4 separate regions of the Homo sapiens genome follow, and all the other regions are linked to region 4. Evidence: fine-mapped expression QTL. A gene starts in region 4. Each other region holds a variant in brackets. All regions are shown on one strand. Distances are from middle to middle.

What was found. PIP is the estimated chance that this variant, and not a neighbour inherited with it, causes the effect. A credible set is the group of variants that fine-mapping cannot tell apart.
Region 1: its variant is the best candidate, but not a certain one, in a credible set for the expression of IRAK3 in whole blood (INTERVAL, PIP 0.73).
Region 2: its variant is the best candidate, but not a certain one, in a credible set for the expression of IRAK3 in whole blood (TOPMed, PIP 0.50).
Region 3: its variant is the best candidate, but not a certain one, in a credible set for the expression of IRAK3 in whole blood (TOPMed, PIP 0.79).

The regions. Positions count from the first base shown.
Region 1 is chr12:66,238,285-66,243,435 of GRCh38, forward strand. All of the region lies in intron 8 of IRAK3 (interleukin 1 receptor associated kinase 3), which reads left to right. Among named protein-coding and RNA genes, the nearest start is that of MIR6502, 10 kb to the right of the region's middle. The variant A/T (reference allele first, on the strand shown) is at 2,351.
Region 2 is chr12:66,152,356-66,157,506 of GRCh38, forward strand. It overlaps TMBIM4 (transmembrane BAX inhibitor motif containing 4), which reads right to left. Exons shown (of 7, transcript NM_016056.4): 2 at 985-1,093; 3 at 1-21. Among named protein-coding and RNA genes, the nearest start is that of TMBIM4, 15 kb to the right of the region's middle. The variant GAAA/G (reference allele first, on the strand shown) is at 2,855.
Region 3 is chr12:66,219,043-66,224,193 of GRCh38, forward strand. The region is part of intron 6 of IRAK3 (interleukin 1 receptor associated kinase 3); the gene reads left to right. Among named protein-coding and RNA genes, the nearest start is that of MIR6502, 29 kb to the right of the region's middle. RefSeq lists enhancers at 3,723-4,224, 4,225-4,724. The variant A/AAAAC (reference allele first, on the strand shown) is at 2,989.
Region 4 is chr12:66,186,918-66,192,068 of GRCh38, forward strand. It overlaps IRAK3 (interleukin 1 receptor associated kinase 3), which reads left to right and starts at 2,297. Exons shown (of 12, transcript NM_007199.3): 1 at 2,297-2,515. The coding sequence starts at 2,383. RefSeq lists silencers at 2,402-2,451, 2,472-2,631.

The DNA of each region.
Region 1 (5,151 bases), 51 kb after region 4:
GAGCCAGAGACTTTTCACCTGGCATCAACGCCTGCTGAATAACTTGTTAGCAATCCTCCCAGCAAGCCTGAGTTCAGGTATTACAGTTATTATCTCCATTTGATAGAGGAGAAAGCTGAGGCTTACAGAGATTAGTGACTGGCCTCTGTCTCATGGCTGTAGAAGGGAAAAGGGAGGTTGCATTCCATGTTTGTGTGAGTCCAATCATCATGCACTTTTTAAGGAATTAAAGGTCTGGGATTAATGGAAGCATGTTGGCGTCATCAGCAGAGACAGGGAAATTGGGAAGGAGAGGAGAGCATAATTAGTGTGCAGAAACTTGGAAATGCTGACATTGGACTCCTGGCAGAAGCAAGAGGCATTGAAGAGGAGATCGGGCCTGGAAAGCGGTGAGAGTAGATAGCTTTCTAAGGAAGAAGCTGTCAAAGACACAGCTCAGAAACACCCACAGGAGAAGCAGTGCCCATGTTTCCAAGGTGTTTTCAACAAGTCTGGGGGTTTATTTAGCTAAAAAATGTCTTAGTAATTTGAACTCTTCAAAGAGAATGTTATAAAAACAAAACCTGCTTCCAGGTGGTGGAATTTGAGAAGGAAAGGACTTAAAGAAAAGAATCTTGAAAAGTTGCAGCCTATATTCTTGGCCAAAGACCCTCACATTTTTATTGGAGAAACGAAGATGTTTTTGACTTACAGGATCACTTAAAAGCATCTGAAGGCAGTAAACTTCCTTGTTATTTCCCTCCTAGCCCTTAGTGAGCTTAATTGTTTTCACATTTATGAACTATTTTAAATGGAAATGCATTTTATCCTTAGCATTTTCCATCCCAGACATTTCATTCCTGCTAATGTTTCCAAAGCAAAGAGATAATCTTGGTGAACATTTCTAATGTTTCCTATAAAATCATGTTCTTTAATCAGTATTGCCATTTGTCTCCTGCCAAGTGAAACAGTCTTTCATACAAGGGAAATGGTCTAGGAAAGAAACAAAGAAGAAGCCATTTGCTTCAAAATGGACTTTTTTTTTTTTTTAATGGAAATTGATCAGAGATGTAAGGTCAGAGTGAGTGAGTGCATGGGTAATTTCCTCTCCAAAAGACTAGAAAAACTGAGTGGTTGGGAAGAGGGCATAGGGGGCCACAGATTGGCCCCTCCCTGCCACCAGGACACCCTTGCCTGAAGACCCAGGCTCCTCCTGCCTTTATCCCCAGACGGGAAGGTTGGAGCCCAGCTCAGTGTTTAACAGGCATGTCAAAGCCTACAGGGAATGCAAAGTGTCTTTCTTTGTTTGACTGATAAGATTCTTTAATCAGTCTCCTCCCTTTCCCTCATAACCCCCTCAAAAAGCCTATTTTTATCTTTCAGAAAAATTTTAGATATATATAATTCTTTTTCCTCAGATTTTTCCTGTTTTCCCCCAGTGCCTCCCCTCTTCTAAAATATCCAAATATGATTTTTTCTAAGGGATGCCAAAACAATTAAATATGACATAAATTAAAATTTCCCCTATTAATTCTATTTGCCACCACTCTAATCCCCAACATTCATTTACTTATATACATAGATACATACACATATGCACGGTACATGCCAGTTTTTTTCTGTCTCTCCATTGTCTTAAAATGTCTGGAAAATACGTTTGCCCAGAACTTCCTGGAACTATTTGAAACTCAGCCAATTTGTTGGCATTAACTAACTGAAGGGTCCTCAGATTTCCAGGGACATCCTACAACCCCCTGTATTTTTGTTCCTTGAGTTGGTGTCTTTGGACTTCTAGAGACATGCAACCAAGCCTTTTGGGATTTTAAGGTAAGGTAATGGACATAGGATGGACAATGGCCAGCCTATATCCTTTAAAGCATACTTTGAGCCCTCTGTGAGTGTCACTCCTTACGTTTTCTCATTTAATACTGGTAAGAACCCCGTGAAGTAAGCAGTATCAGATCTTTATACCAACAGGGAAACAGGCTTAGGGGGGTTGTGCTAGTTGTGGGTAGATTTGGAGTTTCACAATTAAAGGAGGAACACCCATTACTGGGCCTTTGCACCGAGTGCCTAGACTCAGAAGGCACCAACAAGCAAAAACAAGCTTGAATACTGTGTCTCTCAGACCTGCCTAGGTTCAGTGGGGATGAAAAAGAAAGCTCCGCAGTCCCACAGGGGAATAAAGGGTTTCAGATTTGTAGCATTCCAGGCAGGATGCAGTGCACACTTAAGTTGGGGTGGGGTGCACAACTGTTTTAGTAGCCTGCAGGTTCTAGGAGAAACTGAGTCTTGCCTCATCTGGTTAGGGGAGGCAGGGCATCTGGTGAGGGGTGTCTCAGTGTTGCAACAGCCGTAATACAGACAGCAC[A/T]TGTGTGCTGTTGCCTCAGGCTGTCCCAGAGGGGCCGTTGGGTCCTCTTTATCTCTGGAGCCAATCTGTGGCTCCCTGCCCCCTCTTCCCCAGGTCCTTCTGTGGAGTCCTGGCCTTTCCTGAGAGTTTCCAGGCACCCAGGCGCTGGACTGCTGGACCCATATATATACTATATATATACCCACATATATATATATATAAAATATATCGGTATATATATTATATATATGTGGGTATATATATCTCTCTCTCTTTAAAAACCAATCATGCTCTTTCATGCCAAATATGGTATTTTCACTTGAATTCAAATCCTGCATTATAATCTAGGTGGAGCATCTTGTCTTATGTTTAAGGTCCAAGGGATTGAACTTAATTAGGAGATAAACTGGTGAGCAAAGAAAGCAATTCTCATTACAAAGTAGCATTTGTTTGGGGGATTCAGGTCCCCCCGAAAATTGTCCTAGAGACCCCTACTAATAGAGAGATTAAGTAACATCCTAGAGTCAGGTTACAAACTCATCATCTGTGTAGGATTCTCCATACTTCCTCAGTGTACAACCAATGATCATTCTGTTAAAGGAATTATCTGGAGAGGGGATGGCCTCTCTGTTAAGGTAAATAGCCTTGTGATAAAGAGTAGAACAAATCGATTGTAGAAGCATGAAATTGAGGATATGAACCATGGATATGGGTCAAAGATGTCTTTTATCTATCTCTTTGGTGGCCACAGTTGCTTGCAGGCTGCCCTTTTGCATGATATTGCCATGACTGTAGTTGTGTTAGGTTCTTAATTTTGTTAGTTTATTTTCACCCCACAGGATTAACTTACTCAGCTGACCTGCATGGAAGCTGAAGACACTTTGTGTTTGAACATTCTATTTAAGGTTGAAGCAGGGGAAAAGAATTAAGGTAGAAATTGATCGTTGAAGGGCCTTTTGCAATTTCCGCTTTCCTAAAACAGAACATCCTTCTTCCTCAGCTACCGCTAACCTTTATTTAGAACAGAATAAATCACTGGACTCAAAATTTATGTTATACACTAAAGTCAGCTGAAAAACGACTTATCTTTTCACCGATTGTCATTATTCAAATTGTAAATTCAGTACCCTAGAATAATTTCACATCTTGTTGATGGCCTTTCACTGACCCAAAGTCCTCTCTGGGTTTTATGGTGTAAGCATTGTTTGTGGTTACTCAACTCCCTTCTGCCCAACTTTCACAGAAGCTGACTCACCATTTGCTGAAAGCATCCCACCAGCTTTGCTATGGGTCAAATAAAGAATTAGATTGAAGGTTTTGTTGTTATTACTGTTGCTCTTTTCTCCCTTTTTGTACTTAAAAGATTCAGGGTTTTTTTGTGTGTGTGTGTGTGTTTCAAAAATTCAGCTTTTGCAGTCTCATGATTCTGGCATTGTCAATTATAATTCTATGCCTTTTTTTAGAGCTGTGATAGAGGAAGATGTTTAGGTGTTTGACATTGAATATCTGCCATTCAGAACATTCCCACCCTCCCCCTGTGCTGAAATGAAATGGGGCATGCAGAAGTGACTCCAAAGTTGAAGGGCAGAAGGTGGGGTCCTGGCAATGAAGGTTGGAGAACCTTTTTTTCCCACCTCGCCTCCTGGCCCACCGGCAAACTCCTGCATTCAAATGCCCCCAGGACTCTGAAACCCTCAGGGCATCTCCAGGAGCCTCAGACTTGATCTGATCCATTGAAGAGTCAACCTAGGGAAGAAGTGATTATGAACTGACAGTCTCTTCTTATCTAGAGCTGGAGAGAAGTCGGATCTGACTCTAGTCTGTTCCTCATCTGAGGTATGTCAGGATAGTCAACAGTTCTCCAAGTGAGAAAGTAAGAGTGGGTGAGGAGTGACAGATGGGGGTGTGTGAGGCCCAGGCTGGCTTTAGCAGCTGCTGGGTTCTCCAGGGAGAAGGGAGAAGGCAAGGAGAGAAATGACAACTGTGCTCATTGATACGAGCCTTGGGAACCAGGCCTCTCTGACCTTCCTTCCATAAATGCTAAGAGCACACAGCTGATAAGAGGCCCTAGAGCTCAGAAGGTGGGCTTTTTGGATTTTACAATTCCCTTGCCACCCTTAGCGGAAGGAGGAGTGAAATAAAGTTTAAAATGTGTCTTTATCCTTAAAAGACCGCGGGGTCTGGGCGCAGTAGCTCATGCCTGTAATCCCAGCACTTCGGGAGGCCGAGGCGGGTGGATCACCTGAAGTCAGAAGTTCAAGACCAGCCTGGTCAACATGGTGAAACTCCATCTCTACTAAAAATTAGCCGAGTGTAGTGGCAGGCGCCTGTAATCCCAGCTACTCAGGAGGCTGAGGCAGGAGACTCACTTGAACCCGGGAGGCAGAGGTTGCAGTGAGCTGAGATCGTGCCAATGCGCTCCAGCCTGGGGGACAAGAATGAAACTTTGTCTCGAAAAAAAAAAAAAGACCACCGGAAGTGCCTTTGTTTTTTCTGTTGTCAACTCAGCCCTAGACAAAGTCTGGACTAGAATCTTTAAGGCCTTAGCTTCATACATTGAACTGTTTCCCCCAAACTCTCTAAATAGAAGTAGGACTCTGAGTCCTCTGAACAGTAAGAACACTTGCAGTTCAGACCTATGGAACTGGGGCCTGCCCGTTAACCTACCTGTATAGGGATAGCAAAGACTTCTGGAGCTTTTGTAAGATCCAAAATTTGTTCAGAATTAAGAACTTCTTGATATCCCGTGGCTGTTGCTGTAGCACTTTTAGTAACAGCATGTCGTACTACAAATATGCCTCTTGGCATTTTGGATGGGAAGG
Region 2 (5,151 bases), 35 kb before region 4:
AACAGCAAAATTAAGGCAGGACTGAAAGACATAATATTAAGTGTTTCAAGTTAAAGAAAAAATAGCATGAGCAGTATTATCAAATTTAATAAAATTTATCTATTTTATATGTTTATGAAAGTACAGGGGAAAAAATCTGGAATGATCCACACCAAACTATCAAATTATTTTATATCTGGAAAATTTGAGGAGTACAAGGTAGAAAGGAGCCTCAAGACAAAGAAAAGAGCCCAAAATGAATGGGGGAAACTTTTTCTTTTTACCATATAAACTTCTATCACATTTGAATAATGTTTGCAATTAGTATACTAATATTATACAATAAAGAAATTTAAAAATAACAACTACTTTCTTAGGATATTTGCCATATGGCTGTAATTTAAATTAAAGAATTTTACCTCACATAGCAAACTAATAGTTCAAGACTCCCCTTTGGTGGGGAGAAGGGAAGGGAGGACAGAAATTCTCTACTTCTATGAAAATATTCATTAGTTCTCCTTTCCTTTAATATAACAAAACTGTATCATGGAAATAATTATGATTCATCCCTGATTAAAGATCAGGGATGAATCATGTGGAGCTCTTTTGAAAACTTCTTGGTGAAATTATGCTAGTCATGAGCCAAAACTAAAATGAACGCACATTTATTTTTCAAGTACTGTCTTAGGCTTTGAGCACAGGGAATATAGTCTAATAAAGTTTTTAAAACTTAAGACTTTTAAAAATGGCATGCAGTAAAAATTCTTAATTTTTACCAAGGGTTTAACCCTAAGAAACTAAAGCTAAAAAGTTCAGAGGTAAATACCATGTTGTGGAGTATTTTTCTTCATCAAAAACAAAACTAATCAGGCTTATAAGAGTAAATGAACCTTTTTTACATTTTAACCTCAAAAGTTAATAGAAAAAAGTGGATTTTGTTTATAATATGCCTTTTTGATCATATGCAATGTCTGAAAATTATTCATTACCATCTCATTACCTTACCTCTCATGTACAAATGTCCGTACAGACTCAAAGTATAAAAAAACTGTTGAAGTCACTGTAGTTAAGAGAACCTGCAGAGAAAGAATGCTGTAGACTTTTCTCAGAAAGGCTAAAAGAGAAAAAAAATTACATTACTATTTTCTTAACCATTTATCATAGAACAGTAAAATCAAATTTCCTCTTTAAAAAATTGTTTTTTACACGTATTCTTTCCTAATTTTCCTCCTAATAATGTAATGTATAACTAAAACTAGACAAGAATACAAAGCTTCCAAAATAATTTAAAAATTGTAAGAGATATCTAAACCTCTCTCCAAAAAGCATGAGCCTAAAAAAAATTAGTGGGCCAAAATGTAAATGTTTTCATCAAAATGAAAAATGTATTAAATGCCTAGTTGTACACAGCAGGATACAACATAGCAAAAGACTAAAAGCAGAACATTTTAAAAGAATGATTATATCTTGAATCTGAAAAGGAGAAATAGAAAGCATATAAACGTTAAGTTTTTTTATGTCTTAATTTCAAAAATAGTAAAACTATTTCCCCCAAATGAAACTTATCCTGAAAAGGCAAGTAATATATAAACTTACTTTCACTCATCTATTATTATTTCTCATTTATAGTACCCCTGCCTCTAGTTTCTATACAATAGAAAATCCTTTCATATTTTGTTATCAATACCCAGAAATCACCTCTAAGGCTTAATGATTCAATGCTTATTATTAAAGTCTTCTGATATACAGTGATACAAATAATACAATGAACTTCCAAGAACTCATTACCACCTTCAGAAATAAAACATTAATAACAGTTCCCACCTTCTCTCTGTGATATCCCTCTCCCTTCACACTTCCGGCTAACTACAAATCATCTTTCAAGATGCAGCCTTTCTCAGTTCCGCATTCTGAATTAGATGTTTCTCCTTCATGTTCCTGAGGAACCCTAAACATACCATTAATCACTTTATAATTGATAAGTCTACTTGTCCTTCACCCCCATTAGACTGTAAAGACCGAAAGCTCCCTAATAATTGGGAAGAAGCCTAATTCATTTCCTTACCCCCACCACTCAGCCTAGTGGATGGCATTGCATAAACAGTCGTTAAATTTTATTTGCTTTTAAATAAACTTTCATTAAATTTATGAAGGGTAAATTTTACTAGTCAGGGAAGAGAAAAAGTATTATTCTGAAATGAAACAGAATAATGGAGCCACTGCTTAGAGGACTGTGCTTAGGCAGGCAATAAAAATCATGTTGAATGACTTTTACCCAACAAAAGAAAATGTGATGTTGTCTCTTGCCTATCATGGCAATGCTCATGGTAGATGAGCATTAGATGGTGGATGTTCCTTTTGAAAAACATTCCTACTAAAGACCTGGCTTTCCAAGGAAGGGTGAAGTGCTTTGATGGCATGTCAGCCAAATATCAAGTTAAAAAAACAAAATCTTTCACAGGAATAAGGGAATTTTCATGAATACTAAGGATTTAATAATCAAAATGCCTAAATATTAAACTTAATTTTTCCCTCTGGCACTCTTTCCAAAATCTAGAGTGAGTTTTTCCTGATGTCCTAAACAGATTTTACTGGGCATATGATTTAACCACTGACTCATAAGAACACTGAGTGTCCATTGTATTTTGGCTTAGAGATAAACAGTTCTCAACTCCACAACAGATCTATGACTTACTTTCTCAAAAAGGCCCTGATGTCTGAATGCTTTGGGAGGTCATTTCTATCTTTTTCATAAAAGCAGAGTAAAGAATATACTACTGGCATGGACAATGTTATTTGGGATATCTTTCTGCAAATTTAATTATTAAACCAAAGGTCAAGCCATTACACCTGCAAGGGATTTTCTGGGCTATGA[GAAA/G]AAAAATCATATTCTTTACACTACAGCCTCCATGTCCTGGATTCAAGCCATCCTCTAGACTCAGCCTCCCAAGCAGCTGGGAATACAGGCCCACACCAGGATGGGGTGTGTGTGCACACGTGTGAGAGAGAGAGAGAGAGAGAGAGAGGCAGGGTCTCACTCTGTCACCCAGGCTTAAGTGCAGTGGCATGATCATGATTCACTGCAGCCCCAATCTCCAGGGCTCAAGCAATTCTCCTAACTCAGCCTGCCCAGTAGCTAGTACTACAGGTGCATGCCACTACGCCCAGCTAATTTTTTTGTAGAGATGGGGTTTTACCACATTCCCGGGCTGGTCTTGAACCCCTGGGCTCAAGTGATCCACCCACCTTGGCCTCCCAAAGTGTTGGGATTACAGGCAGGAGCCACCGTGACTGGCCCTGGAATGTATTCTTTACTTTTGATACCCTATTATGTACCTCATATAACTCAAACCCAATCCATATGATATATATTCTCTCAAGCAGTGGAAATTAGTGTTATTTCTTACCATTTTGTAAAACTGATTTACAGTTCAAAACAATGTGCACATTAAGATCTAATGTTTATTTGTATATATGTACACAAGTGCATATGTAATAAAAGACTAGAATAATATACATCCAGGTGTTCGTATACCCTGGGCAGTAGTACTAAGGATAATTTTCATATTCAGTTCTTTACTAATCTGTATTTTTTAGATACCAGCAGTATGTATTACTATTGCAATTAAAAACATTTTAAAGAAACTCGTGCTAAGCCTTTAAGTTCATACTAAAAAATTCTCCTTATGCAGATATTCCAGACCATAACTTTTTCTATACTTTAGTATCATAAGCCAAATCCCAGGCAAAAGCAGTATTGACACCCATTGTGAATAATATAAAAAGTAGCAAAGGACATGCATATACAGCTTTCAGGAAAATATAAAAGATTCAATATGAAAAGAATACTAGTCAAACAGCAAGATTTTCCAATTTTTGTTGAGTCCTGATTTCTTCCCTTCTATTTGACATCTCAAAACTTAACATGGCCAAAACTGGAGCTCTTCATTTATCCAAATTTGCTGTTCTCCCAGTGTTCTCATCGATAACCAGCACCAACATCATCCAAGCCAAAAACATAGAAGTCATCTTTGATTACCCCCTCCCTGTTCCCAATCTATCAGCAACTACTGTAGTTCTACCTTTGAAAGTACAACGTATCTGCCTCTTTTGGTCTCCTCTGTTACCTCCCTAGTCAAAGTGTGCCTAATCTCTCACCTGGACCACTGGAGGAACCTTCTGATTGGTCCCCATGCTTTCACTCTTGTCCCACCTATTTCTCCACACACTCTGTCAAAGTGATTTTTATGTAAAGTAAACCATATCATGTGACTCTGCTTAAATACTTAAATAATCGTTCCACTTAAAATAAAATGTGAAAGATTTTATAGGACCTACAAGGTCCCACATGATGTAGAACCTTTCCAATCTCATCTCAGCACTCTCTCTCTTCCTCACCATGCTTTACCCACATTAGTCACTTTCCCGCTTCAGGGCCTTTGCACTTGCTCTTTCCTCTACTTGGAATGCCCTTATCATTCTTTACATGAAGTAGTGGTTTATGGTAAGTCACAGTTCTTTGACACTCCCTTCAAGTGAGTCCTAACAAAAAGAATGATGCAAAAGTGGCAGGGTGCTACTTCTAAGACCAAGTCATAAAAGGGATTATGGCTTCCTCCTGCTCTTTCTTGGATCATTTCCTCTGGGACAGTGTTTCTCAACCTTGTTTTCATTATTCCCCGCCTAAGTAGCCTTCTAGGTACTTTTTTCCTAATAGCCCCCTCAATAAAATTTTAATGCCACAAATATACTATATATCTGTTGTACCATCGCCCTTTGGAAGGATATACACCATTATAAAATCTTAAGATTTTTTTTAGATCTTTACATCCAACTATCATCTAATGGGGTCAATAGCACCCCATTAAGAATGCATACTCAGGGAAGGCCAGCTATGTTGTGAGGAAACTAAGGGCACCCTATGGAAAAACACATGTGGGAGGAAAGTGAGGTCTCCTGCCAACAGCCAGTGAGAAACTAGGGACTCCTATGAATAGCCCTGTGAGTAGCCTGCCTGGGAGCACATCCTTCACCCCCAGTCAAGCCTCCAGATGACCAGCACTAGCCAATATCTTGACCACAACCTAGGACAAACTCTAAACTAAAACTACCCATATTCCTGACTCTCAGAAACTGAGATAATGTTTATTCTTTTAAACCAATAAGGTTTAG
Region 3 (5,151 bases), 32 kb after region 4:
TGTGTGTATGTGTGTGTGTGTGTGTGTCTCACACTTTATTCTTTATCCATTCCTCTGTCAATGGACATTTAAGTTGTGTCTATGTCTTGGTTACTGTGAATAATGCTGCATTAAACATGAGAGTGCAGATATCTCTTTGAGATACTGATTTTATTTCTTTTACATACGTACCCTGATATGGTTTGGTTCTGTGTCCCCACCCAAATCTCATCCTGAATATACTCCCATAGTTCCCATGTGTTGTGAGAGGGACCTGGTCGGAGATTATTGAATCACGGGGGCAGTTTCTCCCATACTGTTCTTGTGATAGTGAATAAGTCTCACAAGATCTGATGGTTTTAAAAAGGGGAGTTTCTCAGCACATGCTCTGTTCTTTTGTCTGCCGCCATGTGAGATGTGCTTTTTATCTTCCACCATGATTGTGGGGCATCCCCAGCCACATGGAACTGTAAGCCCATTAAACCTCTTTCTTTTGTAAATTGCCCAGTCTCAGGTATGTCTTTATCAGCAGCATGAAAATGGACTAATACATACCCAGAAGTGAGATTGTTGGATCTTATGGTAGTTGTATTTTCAGTTTTTTAAGGAACCTCCATTATGGCTGTACCACTTTATATTCCAACCAACAGCATACAAGGACTTCTTTTTCTCCATACCCTCAGCAACTCTTGTATCACTTGTCTTTTTGATAATAGCCATCCTAATAAGTGTGAGGTGATATCTCATTGTGGTTTTGATTTGCATTTTTCTGATGATTAGTGATGTTAAGCATCTTTTCATATACCTCTTAGTCATTGGTATGTCTTCTTTGAAAAACTATCTCTTTGGGTCATTTGCCCATTTTTATCAGGTTATTTGCTTTTTTGCTATTGAATTGTATGAGTTCCTCACTATTTTGTATCTTAACACCTTATTAGATATATGGTTTGCAAGTATTTTCTCCCATTCCATAGGTTTCCATTTCATTTTGTTGATTGTTTCCTTTGTTGTGCAGAAGCTTTTTAGTTTGATATAGTTCCACTTGTTCATTTTTGCTTTTGTCACCTATGCTTTTTGTGTCATAGCCAAAAAATCATTGCCAAGACCAATGTCAAGGTAAATTTTCCCTATGTTTTCTTCCAGATTTGTATGGTTTCAGATCTTACATTTAAGTATTTAATCCATTTTGAGTTAATTTTTGTATATGGTGTAAGACAAAGGTCCAATTTTATTATTTTGTATGTGGGTATTCAGTTTTCCCAACACCATTTATTGAAGATAATTTTCTTCTTCTGTTGTATATTCTTGGTGCCCTTTTCAAAGATTAGTTGATGATATATATGTAGGTTTATTTCTGTTATTTTTTTTTTTAAATTCTATTCCATTGGTCAATGAGTCTGTTTTTATGCCGGTGCCATACTGTTTTTATTACTATAGCTCTGTAATATAGTTTGAAATCAGGACGTGAATGCCTCTGGCTTTGTTCTTCTTTCTTTTTTTTTTTTTTTTTTTTTTTTGAGACGGAGTCTCGCTCTGTCGCCCAGGCTGGAGTGCAGTGGCGGGATCTCGGCTCACTGCAAGCTCCGCCTCCCGGGTTCACGCCATTCTCCTGCCTCAGCCTCCCAAGTAGCTGGGACTACAGGCGCCCGCCACTACGCCCGGCTAATTTTTTGTATTTTTAGTAGAGACGGGGTTTCACCGTTTTAGCCGGGACGGTCTCGATCTCCTGACCTCGTGATCCGCCCGCCTCGGCCTCCCAAAGTGCTGGGATTACAGGCGTGAGCCACCGCGCCCGGCCTGTTCTTCTTTCTTAAACTCACTTACTGTTTTGGGTCTTTCATGGTTCTATATAAATTTTAGCATTTTTCTTCTATTTTTGTGAAAAATGGCATTGGAATTTTGATAGAAATGTGTTGAATGTGTAGCTCACTTTGAGTAGTATGGACATTTTAACAATATTAATTCTTTCAATTCAGGTATGTAATGCATCTTTCCATTTATTTGTGTCTTCTTCAGTTTCTTTCATCAGTGTCCTATAGTTGTTAACGCACAAAATTTTCACCTCCTTGGTTAAATTTATTCCTAAGTGTTTTATTCTTTTTAATGCTGTTGTAAATAGGATCATTTCCTTAATTTCCTTTTCAGATTGTTCATTGTTAGCATATAGACACATAGTTGATTTTTATATGTTGATTTTGTATTATGCAACTTTTCTGAATTTGTTTATTGTTCTAACAGTTTTTTTGGTGGAGTCTTTTGGGTTTTCATCATGTCATCTGTAGACAGAGCCACCTTTAACTTGCACCTTTCCAATTAGGATGCTTTTATTTCTTTTTTATTGCCTAATTGCTCTGGCTAGGACTTCCAGCTCTATCTTGAATAGAAATGGAAAGGGTGGGCACACTTATCTTTTTCCTGAACTTAGAGGAAAAGCATTCAGCTTTTCACTGTTAAGGTATGATGTTAGCTGTGGGTTTGTCATATATGGCATTTATTACATTGAGATACATTCCTTCTATACCTAATTTGTTGAGAGTTTTTATCATGAAAGGATGTTGAATTTTATCAAATGCTTTTGCATTTGTTGAGATGGTTTTGTGATTTTTATTTTTCAGTCTGTTAATATGGTGTATCATTTACATATTTGCACATGTTGAACCATCCTTGCTTCTCAGGGATAAGTCCTGTTTGACTCTGGTATTTCATCCTATTAATGTTCTGTTGAAGACTGGGCACAGGGGCACATGCCTGTAATCCCAGCACTTTGGGAGACCAGGAAGGTGGGTCACCTGAGGTCAGGAGTTCAAGACCAGCCTGGCCAACATGATGAAACCCCATCTGTACTAAAAATATAAAAATTAGCCAGGTGTAGTGGTGCACGCTTGCAATCCCAGCTATTCAGGAAGCTGAGGCACAAGAATTGCTTGAACCCGGGAGGCGGAGGTTGCAGTGGGCTGAGATCATGCCACCACACTCTAGCCTGGGCAACAGAGCAAGACTCGATCTCCA[A/AAAAC]AAACAAACAAACAAACAAACAAAAAATGTTCTGTTGAATTTAGCTTGCTAAATTTGTTGAGGATTTTTGTATCTATGGCCATCATGGATATTGGCATATAACGTTTTCTCATTGTGTTCTTATCTGGCTTTGATATGAGGGTAATGCTGGCCTACTAAAATAAGTTTGACAGTGTTCCCTCGTCTTTAATTTTTTAAAAGATTTTGACAGGGATTAGTATTAATTCTTCTTTAAATGCTTGTTAGAATTTACCCAGAATCTCTATGGTCCTGGACTTTTCTTCGTTGGGAGGTTTTTGATTATTTAATCAATCTCCTTGGTTGTTATTGGTCTGTTTAGGTTTTCTATTTCTTCATGATTCAGTCTTGGTGGATTGTATGTTTCTAGGAATCCATCTATTTCTTTTAAGTTTTCCAGATTGTTGGCATACGATAGTTCATAATAGTCTCTTATGATCCTTAGTGTTTCTGTGGTATCAGTTGTAATGTCGCCTCTTTCATTTATATTTTATTTATTTGAGGCCTCTCAAAAAAACAAGTCTCATAGTATCAATTTTTCTGAGAGATATTAATAATCCTTTTATATATTTAAGAGATATATTTTATTTTCTATGAAGTAGCTTATAATATTCCTTACCTATTTTTTAAAATTAGGCTTTTTTTAGTGGTTCAAAGGAATATTTTATAATTCCTATTAGAAAATCAGCCTATTTTTATGTTATGAGACGCAAATAATTTTTTACCATACTGTCATTTCATCTTTGCTTATTATAGTTTTGACATGTAGAAATGGTTTTAATATAGGTAATTTCACTCGCGTCTGTGTGAAGAGACCACCACACAGGCTTTGTGTGAGCAATAAAGCTTTTTAATCACCTGGGTGCAGGCGGGCTGAGTCCGAAAAGAGAGTCAGCGAAGGGAGATAGGGGTGGAGCCGTTTTATAGGATTTGAGTAGGTAAAGGAAAATTACAGTCAAAGGGGGGTTGTTCTCTGTGGGGCAGGAGTGGGGTGTCACAAGGTGCTCAGTGGGGGAGCTTTTTGAGCCAGGATGAGCCAGGAGAAGGAATTTCACAAGGTAATGTCATCAGTTAAGGCAAGGACCGGCCATTTTCACTTCTTTTGTGGTGGAATATCATCAGTTAAGGCAGGAACATGCCATTTAAATATCACTTCTTTTGTGATTCTTCAGTTACTTCAGGCCATCTGGATGTATACATGCAGGTCACAGGGGATGCAATAGCTTAACTTGGGCTCAGAGGCCTGACAGTTAAGTTTATCAATGTTTTCTTTTGCGGATTCCAGATTTTATGTTATAGTTTTTGCCATTAAAAGTTATCATGGTTTGAGGCCAGGCGCGGTGGCTCACGCCTGTAATCCCAGCACTTTGGGAGGCCGAGGCAGGCGGATTATGAGGTCAGGAGATCAAGACCATCCTGGCTAACACTGTGAAACCCCGTCTCTACTAAAAATACAAAACATTAGCCAAGCATGGTGACGGGCGCCTGTAGTCCCAGCTACTCGGGAGGCTGAGGCTAGAGAATGGCGTGAACCCAGGAGGCAGAGCTTGCAGTGAGCTGAGTTCACGCCACTGCACTCCAGCCTGGGCAACAGAGCGAGACTCCGTCTCAAAAAAAAAAAAAGTTATCATGGTTTTTGCCATTAAAAGTAAACATTACTTTTTTTTATTTTTATTTTTTTTTGAGACGGAGTCTTGCTCTGTCACCTAGGCTGGGGTGCAGTGATGTCATCTCAGCTCACTGCAAGCTCTTCCTCCTGGGTTCACGCCATTCTTCTGCCTCAGCCTCCCGAGTAGCTGGGCAAAAACCGCAGTAATTTTTGCACCAATCTAATAAAATAATTCTCCCATTTTTTCCCAGTACTTTCATGGTTTCATTTTTTACATTTATTTGTCTGATCCATTTATTTGTCTGGTGAGGTGTTTTCTGTGAACTACAACAACAGCTTGTCTAGGTTTCAAAAATTCTATCGGCATTTTTAATGCAATTTTAATAACTTTATAGATTAATCTGGAGATATTTACAATTTTATAATGTTGGCTATTCCTGGGGTACCATTTTTATTTTGCTAATATTTATTTTGTGTTAGGCCCTGTTTCAAGTGCTTTACATGTGTTAATTCATTAATCCTCATGACCATCCAAT
Region 4 (5,151 bases):
ATCACTGAGAACTAAGATAGGATTAGTACTGGAGAGAGCAACAATGAGCCAGGAGCTAGAGAGTCTAAAAACGAGGAGAAGGAATTGGAGTCGGGGAGATCAGCAGTTGATAGCAACCATGATGATACAACCTGATGATATAAAAATCAAAACTCAAGACAGTTTTAGGAATAGGAAGGCAACATGGTCTGAGAACGACTGCCAACACTGAAAATACAGGAAATTTCACATACTCTAGCTTTCACTTAGGATCCTTGCTTCTTGGTAAATTACAAGATCTGGTAAAGCAGGCCTTTCTGATTGCTTCCCTCATCTGCAGTGATTTCCTGTTTCCTCTGAGTGAGTTTGCCTCCCTGTAGTAGCAATTCAAAAGCTACCAAATAATTAATGGCCTTTTGCCTCTGTTGCTCAGCATGTTCAGGTAGTCCCTTTAAGAGATGTATAGAGGGCCGGGTGTGGTGGCTCATGCCTGTAATCCCAGAACCTTGGGAGGCCTAGGGAGGTGGATCACTTGAGCCCAGGAGTTTGAGACCAGATTGAGCAACATGGGAAAACCCCGTCTCTACAAAAACTACAAAGGTTAGCCAGGCATGGTGGCATGCACCTGTAGTCCCAGCTGTACTGGAGGCTGAGGTGGGAGGATGGCTTGAGCCCAGGGGGTGGAAGTTGCAGTGAGCCGAGATCGCACCATTGCACCCCAACCTGGGCAATCAGAGCGACTAAAAAAAACAAATAAGAAAGAAAGGAGGGAAGGAAGGAAGAAAGGAGGGAAGGAAGGAAGGAAGGAAGGAAGGTAGGTAGGTGTACAGTGTGTACAGATTGACAATAAAACCTTGAACAACGGGATATCGAAATTCTTGCCCACACAGTATGGGCTTTGCCAGTTTTCAGATACATTTTTATGAAGTATTTTCGCTGGCAAAACCATTCAGGTAGGGGCATGAAATGATAGTGTTTCATCACTCGTGATCTCTAGGGGCAGCTATTCCAAAGACTACAATCTGAGAGGTTTCAAAACACCTCTGGTGTTTTCACTTGATGGCCACTGCCCACTCTTCCAGTCACTAAGGCTGAGATTTTTCTCACCACTTTCAAAACAACTTTTTGTCACTGGTAACATGCCTCATGTGACCTAGAAGATTTTGAAACAACAATTTTACTTAAACTCCGTGAAGATTTCAAAACAACAATTTTACTTAAACTCCATGTTGAAGGCAAAAAGGAAGATTGTGTGAAGCACTTTGAGGAAGGAAAAAATGATGGAACGATATTTCATCAAGGAAGCCCATGAGGAAGAAAATTTATTAAAACCAAGTAGGTGTATGGAGGAGAGGCCGCCTCGTGAAGAAAACGAACATAATTTTACGCTGATTTGGTGTCTTTTCTGTTTTTCTCTTGTTGGTATCTACATTCATCTTTTCCAATAATAATCCCATATATGTACATTTTTATCTGTTTAAATTCAGTAAAAGTTGGGAGGAAAATGTGTCAAAACTTTTAGAGTGTGATGGGCTGAGTGGGGTTGTGAGTGATTATCTTCTTTTTTCAGTTTTTTTCTGGGTTTTCCAAGTGTTCCTCGATGAACATGGATAGTTTTTCTGACAGGATAAAAAAGAAGTAGTCCGGGACAGTGGCTAACACCCCGAATCCCAGCACTTTGGGAAGCCGGAGGTGGGAGGATCGCTTGAGGCCAGGAGTTTGAAACCAGCCTGGGCAGCATAACGACACTCCCTCTCTACGAAAAACGAAAAAAAATAATTAGCCGGACGTGGTGGCGTGCGACTGTGGTCCCAGCTACTCGGGAGGCTGAGGTGGGAGGATCGCTTGAGCCCAATAGGTGGAGGCTCCGTGAGCTGAGATAGCGCCACTGCGCTCCTGCCTGGGCGACAGAGTGAGAACCTGACTCAAAACAAAGAAAAAAGGAAGAAAAGAAAGGAAGGGAAGAAGGAAGGAAGGGAGAAGCTTTCAAAAATAAACTTTTGTAAGAAGTAATGACACCGCTAGCCGTCCACACCAGGAGACCGCCTAGCCGTGGGGCACGGTGGGCTCCTGGGAGCTCTGAGCTCTGGGCTTTCTCCAGTTCGCACTCTGCTTGTCTCGGCAGCTCCGTCCCCACCGCAGAGGTGTGAAGGGGCGCAAAGCCAGCGAAGGGAGAACCCGGGTCGGGTAACCCCCAGGCCTGGCCAGGCGGACGCAGGGGCATCTCGGGCGAGGCGCGCCTTGCGTCACGTGGGCACCGCCCCTGCAGTGACCGGAGAACGGCGTGTTCCTAGGGCTCTGCTGCCGTCGTGGAAGCAGGATTTCCGCGGTTGTGTAACGGCCTGTCGCAGGCGTGCAGGGACCTGGACTCCGCCTCGTCCCCGGGGCTCGGGCAGCCGAGCCATGGCGGGGAACTGTGGGGCCCGCGGCGCGCTGTCGGCGCACACGCTGCTGTTCGACCTGCCGCCCGCGCTGCTCGGAGAGCTCTGCGCTGTTCTGGACAGCTGCGACGGCGCGCTGGGCTGGCGCGGCCTGGGTGAGTCGGCGGGGACCGGCCGGGGGCGGCGGGGGAGCCCAGCGCGCCGCGGGGCCCGCTCGGCGTCGCCCTGCATGGCTGGGGTCCCTCGCGGGGCTGGCGCGGCCTCCGGGAAGTTCCCGCCAGGGAGCCGGCCCCCTCCTTTCCTGGGTTGGATGCAGAGACTCCCTGGGACCCAGATGCCTTCCCTCCCTTCTCTTTCAAAGAATTTTGGGTATCGCTGCAAAGTCAAGGGAGCCGAGGCCTGGGAAAGACAGATAACCAGCGTGAAAGCATCTTCTGTTCGTCCGCGATGCCACCCTCACTGGGTTCGCAATGTATGATGTCTTCTGGTCCTTGCAAAATCACCCCAGAACATCATTTTAGTATTGAGACATTTTTAGAACTTTGAGATACTTATCCTTTGGTGTTTTCAATGCATCCCTAAGCCCCTAACTTAATTACAAGTGAAATGCTAAAGTAAACTACGGTTTGCAATGAACGCGGCTCCTAATTTTCTTAATTAAATCTTATTTACCCAATTTCGTTGAATGAAGGTTTATGCTAAAGGGTGGCTTTTTATTTTAATCTAAAAAAATTGGCTTCAGAACTGTATTTTATGCAGACATTGGAAAGTTGAGCAACTGCCTGCTGGAAGTGTTGAGTGTAGCCAGAGATAATTCGGACAAAAATCTTCGTTTTGTTAAGTACAGGCATTTTTGGTTAGATTTGATATTCCACAATGTCATGTTTAATGTTTATTGAAAAGAATCATGATTATGTCAAAATAACTTAGCTTTAATGGTCTGAAATAGGATTTTTCTTACCAGGACTAGCAGAAGGCCTAAGAGGAGAGTTTTCTTTGTTACTGATGAACAGTATGGTGACAGTCTTTGAATTGTAGCAATGGGCTTCTGGTTATACAAAAAATGTTTATATATTTTAAGCTCTGTAATTTTAAGTTATGGCCCTTAAGAAAAAAAAAAAAGTCTGATTTCTAGAAAACGAGATTTCCAGTGTGCATTTGAGGGATTTTGAGGGATAAGGTCACTTCCCCATCAGATCTTTTTGAGATGGATTTTGGCGTGGACAGTATTTATACCCGTTGATTTCCTAGAGTTACTGACTTTGAGAAAGAAAAGTGTTTTTAGTCCAGTTTAATGTTGGTGAATGGGGCCAGGTGGGTGTGGTAAATTAGTGAGGCAGATTATTCTCTCTCTTTCTGTTGATAGCATTGAAATCCAGATATTCATGCTTTACATGGCTTGTCTCATATAACTTCTCCAATTACTCTGTGAGTCATTATCATCGCCAGTGTTTTTTTAACAGGTCAGGAAACTGGTACAAATTGGTTAAGTAACTTGTTCAGGTTCACCAGCTGGAAATGGAAGAGCCAGGATCTGAACCATGGTAGTCTGGATCCAAGGCTTATGTCCTTAACCCCAGCTACTCTACACTTCTCCCCTTACTGCTGTGTTCTTTCTGGCCACATCTAACAGCCTCCCTAAAGTACAGACATTTCTGGCATCAAAGAACAATTCAGTGATCCATTTCAAGCATGCAGCCCTATTTTCCTAGTGGTGAAAATGAATGAGGACCACCCAAATGAGAACAAACAAAAGCTATTTTTTTCAAAGCAAGGGAGCCAGCACCATTGCTTGTGTTTGGCAGAGACTCAAAAGCAGACAGAGGATGGAGGAGGGTGGGAGAAGAAGGCTTCAGCTGTGTCCTGATTGGAGGCTGTTGATATGGGGAAGCTGTAGTTGAGCTACCTAAAAGGGGGTATTTTGTGTGTTTGTTTAGGGGTACATAATTGGCTTTCTCTGGTTGGCCCTAAGTTGGAAGTAGGAGCAAAAATTGAGGAAGTGGTCAGTAATTATTCAAGTCCTGGCCATTTGAGACAGGTTGCTACAGGGGTTCTTGTTTGGCTGCCTGGGCTAGTTGCTACAGTTTAACCCAGTTACTGATAGTTTAACTTGTTAGATACTGTAGACGGTAGGTTGGTTTCTTGGACTGGTTGATGTACATTGCCTGCAGAGTTCTATTTTTATATATAAGCTGGCCATTGTCCCTTTGTGTATTCATTCTCTCACAGGGAAAGGGTCTAAAATGTTTACTCCATGATACTTCAGCTGTAATTCATTGTGCAGGTGGTCATGCCTACTGACTGCCTGGACTACTGAGCTGGCCCTGACCAGGTGCTGCACAAGTTCTTGGCTCAGCAAGAAGGCAAGGCTAGCCCAGTTCAGGGTGTTGAGGCAACTGCCTGTGCTAAACATGCCGAGTTTTCCTGTGGGCACAGCGAAGGGAGAAAGAGGGGAAGAGGTGCAGGTAGGGAAAACTTGACCTTCGAGAGGGGAAGGAGAGTGACAGAGGACTGAATCAAAGAGGCAGTCCTTTGTATGCTCAGGACAGCTGACAGCCCAAGCTTAAATGTAGAAAACAACTGTAATATACTAAGTAAAGCTCTCTCGAGCCGATCGTGATTCTTGATGACGGTGAGTGTCAGGTTATGTTTACAAAGGCAGCTCATATAGCAGCCTATATGATATGACCAGTGTGTGCAGGATAAGGTAAGCCAGTCATTCACAAACACAAATCACCTATGCAGTCTTTTAAATACACAGATGCAGGTCCCACTCCTAGAGCTGCTGATT